Linked DNA regions of Homo sapiens: region 1 is linked to region 2. A link means that fine-mapping ties the variant in region 2 to the expression of a gene that starts in the linked region. Tissue or cell type: lymphoblastoid cells. Region 2 holds a variant in brackets; the other region holds the start of a gene. All regions are shown on one strand. Distances are between the middles of the regions.

Region 1 (8,226 bases), 51 kb before region 2:
TATATAGAAGACAGTACACCCAAACACTACGTGATGACGATGTTTTTTATTTGCTGAGAATGTTTTTTATTTGCTGAGCATGACCTGGGATTTGCAGTTTGCTATTAGGTTGCCACGGTAACTTGCATCTAACAGACACTGAAGGATCCTACCTTTTAAAATAGGAATCACTTTGTAATTTAATGATGATGGATTTTCAAACACAGATTCGAATGTCTAGAGCATCAGATACAGATTAAAATAGTAAAATTGTTTCCAAAAGGCTAAAGAAACATATTTACAGATGCAAAGAAAAATATTTTAATTATGCTGGAATAAAAAAAGGAGAAAAAAGCCTCCTCTGGGATTTTCAATTTATCCATAAAGCTCGTCATAGTTTTTAATATTTCTTTACTTATTTATAATTTAAAAAAAACAGAATTAAAGAACACCTCATTTCTCCCTTACAGGATACAAGCAGGAACAATGAAGATTATCAATAAAATAATAAGTTCAAGAAGAAAAATTAATGGCCGGGCGCGGTGGTTCACGCCTGTAATCCCAGCACTTTGGGAGGCCAAGGCAGGCGGATCACGAGGTCAGGAGTTTGAGACCAGACTGGCCAATATGGTGAAACCCCGTCTCTACTAAAAATACAAAAATTAGTCAGGCGTGGTGGCGCGCGCCTATAGTCCCAGCTACTCAGGAGGCTGAGGCAGAAGAATGGCTTAAACCCAGGAGGCGGAGGTTGCAGTGAGCCGAGACTGTGCCACTGCACTCCAGCCTGGGTGACAGAGCGATACTCCGTCTCAAAAAGAAAAAAAAAATTAATAACCAAGAGTTCATTATTGCATGTAGATGCATAGGAAATTTGATAGAGATCATGCATTTTAACAGAATTCTAAATTTTATTAAGTATATAATAATTCATATTTCCTATTAATACCAAATTAGGAACTAAGAGTAGTGACACACATAACAGAATTAGAATTTAATAAAAAAGTGTTATCATTTTTTTAAAAAGGCAAATTACTACTACTTCTGAATCTGCCCTGGCCTGTGTTTACCACATCCTCAATTCTACTCTGCCTATCACAACAGACATTTATTCTATGGTAAACAACTTCATTTTGAATGTGCTTAATTAAGTACACTGCTTGGAATATATCACGAAATTATATGAGACTTATTCATTAAGTCCACCCATCTAAAATTTCAGGATCAGCAAAACCGGGAAGTATAAAGCACAGCATTTCAGTTAATAAAATCTGAACACTTAGATTTCTGTACTGAAAACATCCTGTGGCTCAATATAGAAGATAGATGAAACAGAAAGTAAGAATAGTAGCAGAAGAGATGAGTTGCTAAACAAAAGCAGTGGTAATATCAGGGACAAAGGGAAGAGATAAAACAAGAGATTTAAAAGACTGAATTAGTAGAATTGGTGAGTACAAATGGGTGAGTAGAATTAACATCTGCTGAATAACTACATACTTAGCTTTTGAGATGAACACTTTCTATTTCCTTTGATCCCCAACATCTTTATGAGATAAATATTGCCCTTATTTTTACAAAAGGAGAGACTGAGGCACAAGTAAATGACTTGAATTTATGTAGCTACAACTTAGTTCTAACATACAAAGGCTTCTATAGCTCTAACATAGCAGAGCTCAGATCCAAATCCAGGTTTGTCAAAACCCAGTTAAACCTCTTTAACGCCCAGGTTCCTACTGGCATAAACTGAAGTTTGACAGTTAATTATTCATAGAGAGTGAAATTGGCTATTAATCTGTCCTTCATCTCGTCTATCCTTCATTAAACTTAAAAAAAAGATTCTATTATTGGCTGGGCGGGTGGCTCATGCCTGCAATCTCAGTACTTTGGAAGGCCAAGGCAGGCGGATCACCTGAGGTCAGGAGTTCGAGACCAGCCTGGCCAACATGGTGAAACCCCATCTCTACTAAAAATACAAAAAAAAATTAGCTGGGCTTGGTGGCGCATGCCTGTAATCCCAGCTACTCAGGAGGTTGAGGCAGGAGAATCACTTGAACCTGAGAGGCAGAGGTTGCAGTGAGCCGAAATCATGTCACTGCCCTCCAGCCTGGACAACAAGAGTGAACAGCTGTCTCAAAAAAAAAAAAAAAAAAAAAAAAGATTCTCTAATGTTACTATTAAAGTCAATCAAAACTTTGGGTGTGCTTTATAAAACTTCATTTTGTGTTTCATCTTCACACTTAATACTAAATGCCATTATAAGTTCATGGAACAGGTTTGGCAAGTAGGGAGAATGAAATTTATTTTATTTGAAAACACTGAGTTTGGGCTGGGCTCAGTAGCTCACGCCTTGTCATCCCAGCACTTTGGGAGGCCGAGATGGATGGATCACTTGAGGTAAGGCGCTCAAGACCAGCCAGCCCAACGTGGTGAAACCCCATCTCTACTAAAAATACAAAATTAGCCAAGTGTGGTGGTGCATGCCTGTAATCCCAGCTACTCCGGAGGCTGAGGCAGGAGAATCGCTTGAACCCGGGAGGCAGGATTGCACCACTGCACTCCAACCTCGGCGACAAGAGTAAAACTCTGTCTCAAACAAAAAAAAAAAAAAAAGAGGAAAAAAAAGAAAGAAAGAAAACACTGAGTTTCAAGTGCTCCTAAGGTATTTTGAGATAGAGGCCAGTCAGTAGTAAAGGATACTCTGCAATGGAGAAAGATTTGTGGGTGGAGCTAAGGAAGCTACTGGAAGTAGTTTGAATTTGGTGACCAAGAAAAGCATGCTCAGAGAGAAAAGATGTTAACTTGTTTAAATAGTGAATCAAAAATGCTAACATTAACCTAAGCAACTACGCTTGACCCTCAGTCAGCTGGACTTATCGTTGTGTATAAAGAACTATGGCATTTAATTGTGTCTTAAATATAATGCAAGCTATCACGGTAAAATTTTGAGTTACTTACTAATTCCTAAAAGTAAGCCAAGTACAGCTTTAATTATTTTTCCTAACTTTGGTCTAAAAATGACAGTCAAGATTTAGGTAGGTTTTACATAAAATTCTACAGATTCAGTAAAATACACTCAGTAAAATAAACCTTTGGGGAATAAAACTTGTTTTTCACTGTAATACCTTTAACATGACTTGTGTACTTTTTGCCAGGCTCAATACTAACTGGTTTATACGGATTGCAGACAGATGTCGATATATAACTACATAACTTTCTCTTCCTCTCTGTGTCCACATATTTAAGAATCCTGTCAGCTAGGTACAGTCAATCCCTAAGAATTGGTTCCAAAATGACAGCCCCTCTCTCTCACTCAGATACCAAAATCCACAGATGCTCAAGTCCCTTATATGAAATGGTGTCATATTTGCATATAACCTCCCCACATACTTAAAAGTTATCTCTAGATTACTTATATAACCTAACACAATGCAAATGCTATGTGAATAGTTGTTATACTGTACTGTTTAGGGAATAATGACAAGAACAAAAAAAAGTCTGTGCAACCATCCACTTTTTTTCCTCTGAAATATTTTCAGTCCCTTGATTGAGTCCACGGATACAGAGGATGCACTGATAACTGTATTATTTCTTCCAACTTGCATAAGAAGAACTGAAACTTAAAGAGGTGGTACCAACCTGCTCAGAGTCACACAATTCTGGCTTTTTGTGATATAAATACACGCTTTTAGGCAATATACTAGTGGCCTCCAAACGTTTTGTACTTGCACCCATTAAGCAAAAGAAATTTGAAATACATGTTCCAACATAAAATTAATACCCTATGTTTCACGTAGAAATCAAATGAAATAAATCTAAATAGAAGTTCTAATATGTTCCCTCTCTACCCACACACCCATGGAACAAACTGCATGCCACTGTATATACTATTGTACATGTTAAAAGATCACACTGCAACCATATAAAAGTCAGGAGATTTGGGTTTTTCTTTTTTCCTTTGAATATATATTACTGAGAAGTTTGCCTTTAAAACACTGGCTTTTAATCTACTACTCGTGACATATGCAGAGTAATAAGCGCTCACAAAACTTCTGTCTTGAGGGCTCAAACACCAAATGATTGCTCTAAGAATTTTCACAGTATTACCTCAAACCCTATTGGTTCTACAACCTTTCTCTACCCTAGAGTCCTGTTTTCCGCAATTCCCAATTGGGATTCTTCTCCGGTTCATTTCTGTAAGAAATGAGGGCAGAGAAATGCCATCAGTAAACCTTTGAACACATGTTAATTTTTCTAGGTAATACAATTTGCATTTTCGTAAAACTGGGCTTTAATGACAAATCCGATTTCAGTGATCTTTGCATACACCCTTTAAACACACCAGTTGCCGCCTGCGAGATATCATCAGACTCATGCTAAGAGCCACTCCCTACCCCAGCTTTCCCCAGACCTCTCCCCGCTTTACAGTTATTCGCCACAGCCCGGGAGAGTCTGGGGACGGCCGCCTGGGAGGGGACGGCCGCCTGGGAGGGGACGGCCCGGAGCAGACGCCAGGTTTCCCGCGGCTCAGGAGACCGGTGCCGCCTCGGAGAGCGCGCGAAGGTGCCGCCGGCCGCCCGACCCGCCCGAGGAACGGACATCTCCCGCCCGGGCCCGCAAGGACGACCATGAACACCGCCGCAGCTCAGCTGACCCTGCCTCTCCCGGGTGGCTGGGGGTCGCCAGCCAAGGGGGCAGCGGGCGGAGGATGAACCCCGGAGCAAGGGAAAGCGACAGCGCGCGCCTTCACCCTACCGCCAACAAGTCGAAGTCTCCCAAAGGAACCTGATCGGCGGGGCTGCCGTGGTACGACCGGCCGCTAAGGCCACCCTGCGGGCGTCTCGACCTCGGCTGACCGCCGCTGGCCCCCTGGGAACCGCGTGCCGGCCGCAGGAGAAGGTAGATTCCCGGGAGCCCCGGCGCCCACCGCGGTACTAACCGCGCCTGCGCCCCGCCCTCCCTCCCTTCGGGCTCCGCCCGCGCCTGCGCAGTTGCGGGGTTTCGCGCCGCCGGAGTCTGAGAGGCCGGAAGTGCCCCTTAGCGGGTGGGGGAAGCTGGTAGGCACGGGCGGCTCCGCAGTGACCGGACTCGGGGGAGGTGAGTGATTTGCCTAAGTAAAAGGGAAAGATAATTGAGCGCCCCCGGCAGCTGGTCTACGCATGCGTCCGCTAGGCCGGCTGGGAGCCGGCAAGGGAAAGCCGAGCGGGCCCCATTGGGGGAAAGGGGTCAGTCACTTCCCGGAAGAGGCGGGGCCGCGCGGGCCCGGCGCTGGATTCGAAACGCTTCCTGGTGCTCCTGGGCCTGGCGGTTGAGCCCGGGGAGCTAGTCTTTGCTTGGGTAAAGAAAGAGGACTTTCCTTTTTTTTTTTCCTTTTGAGAAAATTCAGAAATTTGGAGGCACAGTAGTTAGGATTCAGGCCAAACTGGTAAATGACGAAGGGGCTTCTTCCAGAGCCAAGGAGGAAGGGTTGTCCGGGTAAGTCCCGCGGGACGTGGAGAGACGGCGCCGCCCGGGTCCTCCCACTGATTCCTTTGACCATCTGGCTTACGGACGAGCTCTTTGTTCGCTGCTCCTCCGAAAACGCCTTCAATGACTCCCTTTGAATAAAGTAGGAAGTCCGAACCGAGCCGCCAGGCCGCGACTTGGCCCCTGTTTTCCACTCGCGAGGGCCCTGCGTCACCCCGCCTCGGGAAAGCTGCGCGTTCTCCGGCCGCTTGCGCTTGGCCGAAGCTGCTGGGTCCCGCTGTGCTTCCCCCGGGCATGCGATGGGGATAATTCCCACGCCTCGCTCAAAGCCATCCCGGGAGAGCCCTCCCTGGTCCCCATAGGCACAGTTGGGTGTTCCCTTTTCCGTGTTAACCTTGTATTTCGGATATAGTTCTGTTATAGTAATTACTTTAAGGTATTGTAGTTATTTACAATCAGTCTTTCCCCCACGGTAACCTAGAGTGTAAACCCCCTAAATAAACGTCAGAAGTAATGAAGTCTTAACTTCCTTGGCTTAGGTTTCAGCGCCCTTCTCAACCCCACACTCCCGCTTCAGTCTTTACACAACCCTTCCCATGAATATGCTGACCTAACAAGTAACCTACTTTTCATACTCCAAAATCTTCTCTTCTGTGTGGGGAAAATAATGCATTGACTGCCACCTCACTCCACCTCCAAATAAATTGATGTTGAAATTCTGGCCTCCGGTAATGGAATTCTTTACATCAAAGTCACTTTTTATTTCTAAAAGTAATCACATATATATTATATTCCTACTGTGGCCCTTGCCATGGATCAACGAAAAATATGACATAGTCAAAATAGACCAAAACATCTGGCCTTGTTGTAACCAATGGGAAACACGGTTGGGAGGTCCCTACTTACATGTCACTTGCTTCAGGAACCGTTCCTTGATTCCTAAGTGGGGGACCTTTTTTCCTAAATACAACTATAGCTTGCTTTCTTACCTCTTAAGCCCTTTTTATCTGCAGTCTCACTTACCCTACTAAGGTCTTTAAATGCAGGGCTTGATCTTCCATTATTGTATCTCCAGCACCTATAAAGCTTTCCTGTTAAATAGTAGACATTTAATAAGTATTTATTGATAAACGTGAAGTATGCCTCAACGTTTAGGCTAAATTCATATGAAAATAAAATTGAAAAAATAATTTTAAAGAACAGCATTAGTTACTGAGATTATGTGGTAAATCCCTTAAAATATAATCTTGCATTGAAATAGTTTTCACCATTTACCAGTCTTTATATGAATATATACTCATCTAAATGGAAATTGGGAAATTTAAGCATTTTCTGCTTTTCCGAAGTAAATTTTCTAATGTTTTTCTTAAAGCTGAACTAAATTGCAAAACTTGCTTTAATAAAGTGTGTATTTTTGCATCAGTTAAGCCCCTGACCTCTTTATGTTCTTTAAATTTGATTCATTAGTGAAATTAACAAGGTTCTGTGTTTTTCTCACCTCATTCAGTTTTATAATTAACCAATAAAAGCTTATTAGCTTTTAAGGAAGTTTTAGGAACTTAAATTGATTTATGGGCACCATATGGTTACATCAAAGGACTTGTTTTTGTTTTAACTGGAAGTGGATTCTTAAGTCCTTTAAGATGGAAATTTATGTTCTTTCTATTATACCAAGCAATACTTTCTGAAATAGAGTGATTTTTTTTTATTCCATGCTACCAGTTGGTCATGCAATTCAAATATTAAATACTAGATTACAGATATTAGAATCTTGTAATGCATCTGGTTTAATACCTGTCATTTTGTAGAACGGTTAAATGTCTTCCCAAGGTCATACACCTAATCAGTGGTATATTCAAAACCCAAATCCTAGGCTTCCTATCTGAAGTCCATTGCTTATGAAGTGGTTTGCTATGTGTTCTGACTTTGTTGATTCAAATAAGTAAGCTAAATCAATTTAAGCCATTAATAGGTTTATAAAGTTATTTGCTATGTGTTGTTCTTACATCATTGATTCATGTAAGTAGACTTGTGTGACAGCTAATTCTTAAAAAATTATGAAGATGTTAGACTTCTTTTGATATATATATGTTGATTGTATGAACAGATTGACATCAATATACTTATTCATTATAAAAGATTTGAGTGGGAACTCACCAAATCCCACACCAAAAAAATTTAAAATTTTACCATAGTAAAAAAAACTAAAAAGCAAGATGAAATTATACATAGTTCTTGGTGTAGTATTTTTAATTTTTATTATTTATTTTTATAGAAATGGGGTCTCACCATTTTGCCAGGCTGTTCTCAAACTCCTGGCCTCAGGTGATCCGCCTGCCTCGACCTCCCAAAGAGCCAGGATTATAGGCATGAGCTACCATGCCCGGCTAGTGTAGTATTTTTAAATTTTACTTAATGCTGAGCCATTTTCAAATAACCTCATCACATTGATTATGACCTCATGCAAGAACCATCTGTTCTATCTTTCAGTGTAGTTGTACTTTAATATCTTAGAAGCTATTGCATTCTGTCCTTTTTTGGAATGTTTTATGCTTTTACAGTCTTAACCATTGCTTCTTAATATCACTTCCGCGGAACAGCTGGTGCAAAGAACATGTGATAAGGAATGGAAAACAATTGATGATGGAAACAGAGATTTGGAGTTAATTGCGTTCTTAAAATATTATGATGTTCTTTCTAATAAAATGTACATTTCACATAATTTTCCTCTTTCAGAACTAACCATGGTTAATCATTCTTTAAACCAGGTTTGTTTCCGACAAAAGA
Region 2 (8,226 bases):
AATGAGCCAACCATTTATCTGAGTGTGTGGATGACAGTCACAGCTCCACGTGCAGCTGTTCTTTAAAGTCCACTGTCTTGTCCCTCCCTCGGGTCTAGACAACAAAGACAGCCATTCATTAAACTCCTCTGTTTCGAGTTTTAGGGAACCCCCTATGCCTTTTACCAGTGGTACGGTCTTTTAATGCTGCCACTTGCTGGTAGTTTTACCATAAGCAAGCACAAAAAACCTCCCTCTTTGAACTTTGGTTTTCTGAACTCTCCAGAGATAACAACCATTACCCACCTCATGAGACTGTTGTGATGCTCCAAAGATGTAATCGATATGATAATCTTTTACAAACTATATGACAGCATTCTTGTACTATTAATTATTAAGGTCCTTGTTTCTATGTTTAAAGTGAAAAAATTGCTAGAAAATATAGGACACTACAGTAAGCTTCTGTGGGCATCCAGATAATTGGTCACTGAGAACTGGAGGAGGCAGAGTGTTTCTGGAGAAAACAGTTGGCCCTGGCTTAGCGGGAGTGGTAGAATCTGAGAGGTCAAGGGAGAGGAAGGGACAGTTGAGTGAGGGACACAAGCCAGGCAAAGGCCAAGAAAAGAAAATGTGGTATATGGACAGTGTAGCATTATCCTGGAATCAGGCAGAGAATGGGCCTGGGGACCAGGAAGACATAAAGTTGGAAGAGTTGGGATAGGCCAGACCAGAAATAGTCTTAAATGGCAGGCAGAGAATTTATCAGGAGAGATTTTAGTAGTATGAAAAGTCAAGGAGTTATAAAAGTGTAACAATCACCTGGTCCTGCTCCCTGTATCTGTGGTTTTATCTCTGTTTAACAATCTAGACAAAGTGGCCAGCCCTGGGGGTGCTGTTGGCATCCTGCCACCCAGCTCAGTGCTCTTGTATCCTGGGAGGCCTTTGTTCTGTCCAAGTCATCAGTTCTTCACTAGAGACTATTAAAACTGCTGTTGCAAAATTATTACAGTGAAAGAGATCTGACCTAACCAACTCAACTCCATCTTGCTTCTAATCTCCAAGCTGTCCTTGTTCATTCCTGGACATAGGCCAAACTAACTTTGGGAGGAACTTAGTTTATAGTTTAACTTTGAAACAAAGACAATACTACTCCTTTCCTGAAACAAATCCCTTTCTTGACTGGGGACTAGACTGCCTTTGTAGGACCAAAAAGTTAGCCAAAAGATTCGAAATTATGGTTTAGGAGTCATGCAGCTGGAGGCTACAAGTTTCCGACCCTCCCCAAATTGGTCCCGAGAATAATATCGCTATTGTAAGACCTAAAATTAGTACTTGAGATATTTTGTAGACCCTGCACTTGATGGATCAGCTGGCACCACCCAGATTGATAAACTGGCTCATCTGATCTGTGGCCCCTACCCAGGAACTGACTGAGCGCAAGAGGACAGCTTCGACTCTCTCTGACTTCATCTCCCACCCAACCGATCAGTACTCCTGACTCACTGGCCCCTACCCACCAAATTATCCGTAACAACTCTGATCCCTGAATTCTGAGGAGACTGATTTGAGTGATAATAAAACTCTGGTCTCCCGCACTGCTGGTTCTGTGTGCATTACTCTTTCTCTATTGCAATTCCCCTGTCTTGATAAATGGGCTCTGTCTAGGCAGTGGGCAAGGTGAACCCTTGGGTGGTTACACTACCAGGCCCCAGCTCTGACTTTACCAAGTCAGAATCTCCAGGAGAGGAGCCTAGGAATCCTCTTTTTTTTTTTTTTGAGATGGAGTCTCGCTCTGTCTCCCAGGCTGGAGTGCAGTGGCAATATCTCGGCTCACTGCAACCTCCGCCTCTTGGGTTCAAGCAATTCTCTGCCTCAGCCTCCCGAGTAGCTGGGATTATAGGCACCCGCCACCCCACCTGGCTATTTTTTTTATTTTTAGTAGAAACGGGATTTCACCATCTTGCCTAGGGTGGTCTTGAACTCCTGACCTCGTGATCCACACGCCTCGGCCTCCCAAAGTGCTGGAATTACAGCCATGAGCCACTGCACCCGGCGGAACCGTCTTTTTAAAAATATGCTTTCCCTCTCCCCAGGTGATTCTTGATAGCAGGGAAGTGTGGGAATGCTGTGAATGTGAACTCTATGATTCCCTACAGCGAGAGGCTTATCCGTGGGCTTCATACCTGCTGGAGATGGAGGGTAACCACTCAGTCCACAAGGGGCTGAGCATAGTTCTTCAACTGCTCAGTAGCTACACTTCTGGGATGGAAAAGACTGGAACTTTTTTTCATGAAACAACATTTCCTCTCTTTCATCTTTCTTGTTGTCCTCCTCTGAGTCTCTTCTCCACTTCTTTCTACTCTTTGCAAATGAAACACGGAACTCCAACAAGGTCTCAGCAAACCTTATATCCTACCTGTCAATGTCCCAGTCATCTTTACAGGAGCACTTCCACCTGAAGCTCCTCCCTCCCTCCCTTCCTTCCTGCCTGCTTTTTTTTTTTTTTTAAATATTTAAATAAGTGTACTACCCATATGCTTTGATTCAACTTGAGAGCGCCTGTGATTCCTGAATCTTTTTCATTTGCACATGGACCTAATCAGGCCAGCCTTGACCATTCACTGGTTTTGAAATTCTAATTTTTAAATCAGTAATCTTTTTTAATTTAGAAAATACTGACAACTGTCAAGACGATAGCAACAATTGAGTACTGACAATGTCTGAGGGCAGTAGTATGACATTTCTTTATGTATATTGATCTTTACAACAATCTTGTAAAGTAGCTGTTGTTATTATCCCTTTATTTCAAGTAGAGGAACTGAGACATTAAGAAATGAAGTTACCTGCTTATAATCACTTAGTTAAGTAAGCAGAGAAGTCAAGGTTGGAGCCTAGGAACTCTGGCTCCTAACCACTAGAAGAAAGTAAGATGAATGAAGAAAAAAATACTCTCAATTCCTGTTACCAGAAGTAACCACTCTTAACACTTAGTCATATTTCTATGAGAAAGAATTTTCAATTGGATCAAAGTATTAATTTTATATGTCCTACTTAAAAGCCTTAATATTAAATTAAGCTTTGTATATTAAATGTTATTCATAATGATTTCTTTATCAACTATATAATATTTCATCATATGAATAGGAAATAATGTATGCAATTACCTCTTTGCTATTAGATATTTGTTTCTAATTTTTTACTGTAAGACTATGGCGAATATTTTTTATCCTAAATATTTGACTGTAACTTTGTTTAGTTGTATAAAGTCCTTGTGTCAAAAGTACTTTTGAATCTAAGATGAATTTTGGACTTTAAGTTACTTTAAAAATTGAACCAACTGACTCTCCCACAAGCAATGTGTGGGAAGGACCACTTCCTCATCCTCTTGCCAACTTTGCCAATTTGGGAGGTGAAAAACGGCCTTGCCTTGTCATTTCCATTTACATGTCTTTGATTACTACCGAGGTGAACATTTTCTTCTATGTTTATGAGCCACTTGTATTTCTTTTTCTGTGAGCTGTTTATTTATGCCCTTGTTCATTTTCCCAGTGGCAAGCTTGTATTTTTCTTATCTGTGTGAGTTCTTCATAGCAATAATGTTTTACCTGTCATGTTTGACTATCCCGTATCAAAAAACTGAAAAATATTTCCCCCAATTTCTTCTTTGCCTTATATCTGCTTTTTAGGTGTCAGTTAACTGGCAAGTATGGAAATCTGAATTGAAAACACTCAAAAGCAAAGGCTAAAGTTTGTGAAAATAAGCAGGTTCATTATGCAGACAACCATTTTTAGTATTCACTTTAATAACAGGACTTTTGTCATCACTGAAGAAAAATGAAGAAGTAATGTTGCACTTTTCTTCTTCTCAGGCTGGTAAGAACAGGGGAGAATCCTTGGAGAACAAACTCCGTGCAAATTGCTTTCAACTTTTTGACATGGGTATTAAAATGCCACCCCAAATACCAGTGGTAATAAAGAATCCAACTTAAAAGGGGGAGTAGGTGTAAATGTAACACATGAGATTTCATTTAAATCTTGCTGGCCAGTTGCTGAAGAATCCATGGAGAAGCACTCAAGGCTGCTACCCCTCCCGAGTTGGTGACAGAAAACTTGGCTATTTGGGGATAAATGTTGACATTCTGAGATTGCCGAATCAAGACAAGCTGCTCATATTTCCTTGCAATAAGAATAATCACAGCATCCTGCCCTGATGCTCTCCAGGGAGAATGAGCTTCTGTTCCTCTTTTTATTACCCTCTTCCTCTTCTCT[T/A]ATGTTTCTTCACCCACACTTTGCAGTCCCCTCTCTGCCACCCTCCTATCTTCTGCATAACTGCCCATTGTGGGTGGACATGGTGACTGCATTTTGTTCCCAAATTAACATATTTAGTAATATTTTCAAAAGAGAAAGAGGTTTATATTCAGGTGCCAGGGACCCCGCAGGGACATGGCTGCCCCCAAATGGATTCTTTTTAGAGTAAACCACGCTGCCTTGGCTTCTGTGCACATTCATTTGGCAAAGAAAATTCACAAGGCATTTGACTGTGGAGCGAGCTGATGAGACAGGGTCCTGAGCCCAGACAGTGGAAGTGCTTGAGAAAGGGAGCATCCCAGGTGTTTGGGAGGGAGAATGCTGCTTTTCCTCATGACCACCTAGTGAAGGGGATGAAGAAAAACAAAACTTCTGGTCAGGCTGGAGAAGTCCACAAGACTCTGTTCTAAAGGATTTCTACAGTTTAGAACTCTTCTGTTTCTCACTTCTCCTGTGAATTAAGTTTAATTATTTTGTTGCCGTTTATTTGTCTGTTGCTTTGTCCTGCCCAAGGGTTAAATACCCAGCCTGTGAAAATCATCTGTTCACACATTGCATGATGCTCTACAATTTATTATTAAATGGATCAAAACCAAAATGTTACTCTTTGGCTTTACAATGAGCCATAAAGTCAAATCACGAGGCCCAACTACTTTTATTATTTCCTTAGCATAATGGCAGTCACATGAAAGTCACAGTCCCAAGAGCCTCACACAGGCTTTGCTGAAACTGTCACAGGCTTGACAGCACAGCAGCTCCAGGCCGCTATCCATGCAGGAGAGCACCACTTTCAGTTCTCTTTGCTAACTCAAGGACACAGGAAAATGTCACATTTCACTTAGTTGTTTTCTTCACACATACACACACACCTATATTCCCTTTGCCCCACAAGAATTATCTATTTTCTGGTGAATGTTAGCTGAGTGCCAAGACTGTGTGGCAGTGTGAAAGGGCCCAGGTTTTTAACTTTTTTTTTTTTTTTTTTTTTTTTGAGACAGAGTCTCACTCTGTTGCCCAGGCAGAGTGCAGTGGCATGATCTCGGCTTACTGCATCCTCCGCCTCCCATGTTAAAGAGATTCTCCTGCCTCGGCCTCCCAAGTAGCTGAGATTACAGGCGCTGGCCACTACACCCTGGCTAATTTTTGCATTTTTAGTAGAGACGGAATTTCACCATCTTGGCCAGGCTGGTCTTGAGCTCCTGACCTTCAGTGGTCCACGCATCTCGGCCTCCCAAAGTGCTGGGATCACAGGCATGAGCCACCACTCCTGGCCCAACTTATGTCTAACTGTACACACACAGGCTCTGTCCCATGACTGGAAGGCCAGGGCTGGGCTGGCCAGTGGAGTTCTGTATGGCTGTGGCTATAAGAAGGTACTATGGAGTGTACAAAAGTCAGGGGAGTGTGTAGAGCTCAGGGTGGGCAGGAGCCCCCACAGCAAAATACAGCTACTGAAATCAGGGTGCACAGAGCCAGCAGGGTCTGAGTGTCTCAGAGACAAGCAGTGAGGGCAGGGATGGGCGAGAGTACTGCAGCTGGCTCTCGGTGTGGCAGCTGCAGAGCCGATGGGTGTGGCTATGGTTTGGAAAGAAGCTGTGTCCCATGACCTTGGGCAAGGTCCTTAGCATCTGAGCTTTGCTTCTTCCCTTGTAAGATGATGATAATGCCTACCTAACTGGACTGTATGGAGGATGACATGAGTGAATGTATGCAAGGCCCTTATTTTTAGCTCCTAGCATAGAGTACGTGCTGTAAGTACTCAAAAAATGGAAAGTGTATTACTGTTATCAATATTAATATACAAAAGGATTTTATTTTTAAAAGAATGTTCTATATAAAGTGTTTAATTCTAGGAAAATATAATTAAATATCACCTTTACCTGCTGCTTGATAATAATAATAATGTGGCCTAAGGCCAGGGAAAGCACTAGAAGTGGTAGGGAATGACAGCTGCCTTCTATTCTGGAACTGCAAACCCAAAGATGTAAAGCAACTACAAACCTCACAATGAGGGGTCCTTCCAAAATCCTCGTTCACCTATCTCCTCTCTCGGAACATAACATCACTCGCTGAAGTCTTGTGATCCTGGGGTCAGACTGCCTAGGTCTAAATTGTGCTCTTCCACTTACAAATCTGGTCACTTGGGGTAACTTTTTTTTTTTAACTTCTATAAGCCTCAGTTTTTTCTTATTTAAGGTGGGAACAGAAGGCTGGGTATGGTGGTTCACACCTGTAATCCCGACACTTTGGGAGGCTGAGGTGGGTGGATCACTTGAGCTCATCAGTTTGAGACCAGCCTGGGCAACATGGTGAAACCTCATCTCTACAAAAAAAAAAAAAAAAGAAAAAGAAAAAAAATTAGCTGGGCATGGGGTCACATGCCTGTAGTTTCAGCTACTTGGGAGGTTGAGGTGGGAGGATGGCTTGACCCCAGGAGGTGGAGGTTGCAGTGAGCCGAGATCGTGCCACTGCACTCCAACCTGGGCAATAGAACCAGACCTTGTCTCAAAAAGAAAAAAAAATGAATAAAGAAAAGGAAAAAAAAAGTAAGATAGGAAAAGAAATAATATTTTTATAAGATTTAAATGGAGCACTTAGTAGCACTTAGTAGTAGAGACATTTATTATTATTATTGCTATCATAGCTGAGATAACTGTGGGGATGGCCAAGGAAGGCGGTGCCTCTAAAGATTACACTATTTCTCAGAAACAGCTTCATACATACAGCTTCACTGGAGAACCAATAGAACACTCAAACACCTTCCCCCAACACACACGAGCACACACAAACACAAATACACACACGGCACTCCTTCAAAACTATAAGAGTCAGGCCTGTTCGCTAACCAGGGCAATAAGTAGTTATGTGGACGCCTGTCATGTCCAACCAACCATCTAATTTAGGAATGATGATAGAAGTCTAAACCTACTTAATCTTTTTAGTACCTATAGGACCCAGGACTCTGGCTAATCTCAGGTGCTCTGTACACACTGGATACATGACTGAATGGGGCCAAGGAATCAATCAATCAATCTTTTAGGATTTACCAAGTCTCAGGTCAAGCCTGAGTTCCAGCTTCAACAGCTTTGCAGGGCCCATCGTGCAGATGCCTCCAACTGGTGGGTAAAAGCCTAGGCTCCAGTCAGCCTGCCTAGGCTCTCATCCTGGGGCCTTGGGCAAGTTACTTAACTCCTCTGTGCCTCAATTTCTTATCAGTAAAACAGGATTGGTGATGATAATAGCACCTACCCCTTAGGGTTGTTGTGAGGATGAATGTGGGTTCATCTGTGCTAAGCACCTGGAATATTACTGGTGCACTCTGCCTCTAGTCGTGCTCCACGGGTGATGATTAATTTTATGTGCCAACTTGCCTGGGCCACAGGATGCCCAAGTAGCTGGTTCTACATTATTTCCAGGTGTGTTTGCAAGGGTATTTTCAGGAGAGATTAGCATGTGAACTGGTAGACTGTGTAAAGTAGATACTGTGGGTGGGCATCATCCCCTCAGGGCTTGAAAAGAACAAGAAGACTGAGGAAAGTTGAGTGGTCTCTCTGCCTGACTCCTTAAGCTGGGACATCAATCTCCTGTCCTCAGTGGTTTTCAGTGCTCCTAGTTCTCCGGCCTTCAGATCTTGACTGGAATCTACACCATCTGTTGCCTCTCTGGCTCTCAGGCCTTTGAACAATACCACAGACTTTCCTGGGTATACAGCTTGCAGACAGCAGACTGTGGGACTTCACCTCTATTCATCCATCCATCCATCCATCCATCCATCCATCCATCCATCCATCCTATTGGTTCTGTTTCCCTGTGAACCCTGGAGAACCAATAGAACACTCAAACACCTTCCCCACAAACAAGCAGAGTGAGGCTCCAGTGCACTGCTGACCAAATCTCACCCTTGCGAACTCCCACCAGAAGCTCCTTGTCATCTCCAAG

The links. PIP is the estimated chance that this variant, and not a neighbour inherited with it, causes the effect.
Region 1: it holds the start of SMC6, and the variant in region 2 is fine-mapped to the expression of SMC6 in lymphoblastoid cells (GTEx, PIP 0.99).

Annotation. Positions count from the first base shown.
Region 1 is chr2:17,748,898-17,757,123 of GRCh38, forward strand. It overlaps SMC6 (structural maintenance of chromosomes 6), which reads right to left and starts at 4,913. Exons shown (of 28, transcript NM_001142286.2): 1 at 4,729-4,913; 2 at 4,081-4,167. It overlaps GEN1 (GEN1 Holliday junction 5' flap endonuclease), which reads left to right and starts at 5,241. Exons shown (of 14, transcript NM_001130009.3): 1 at 5,241-5,448. RefSeq lists silencers at 4,389-4,748, 4,889-5,028.
Region 2 is chr2:17,800,327-17,808,552 of GRCh38, forward strand. No RefSeq gene overlaps it. Among named protein-coding and RNA genes, the nearest start is that of MSGN1, 12 kb to the right of the region's middle. The variant T/A (reference allele first, on the strand shown) is at 4,249.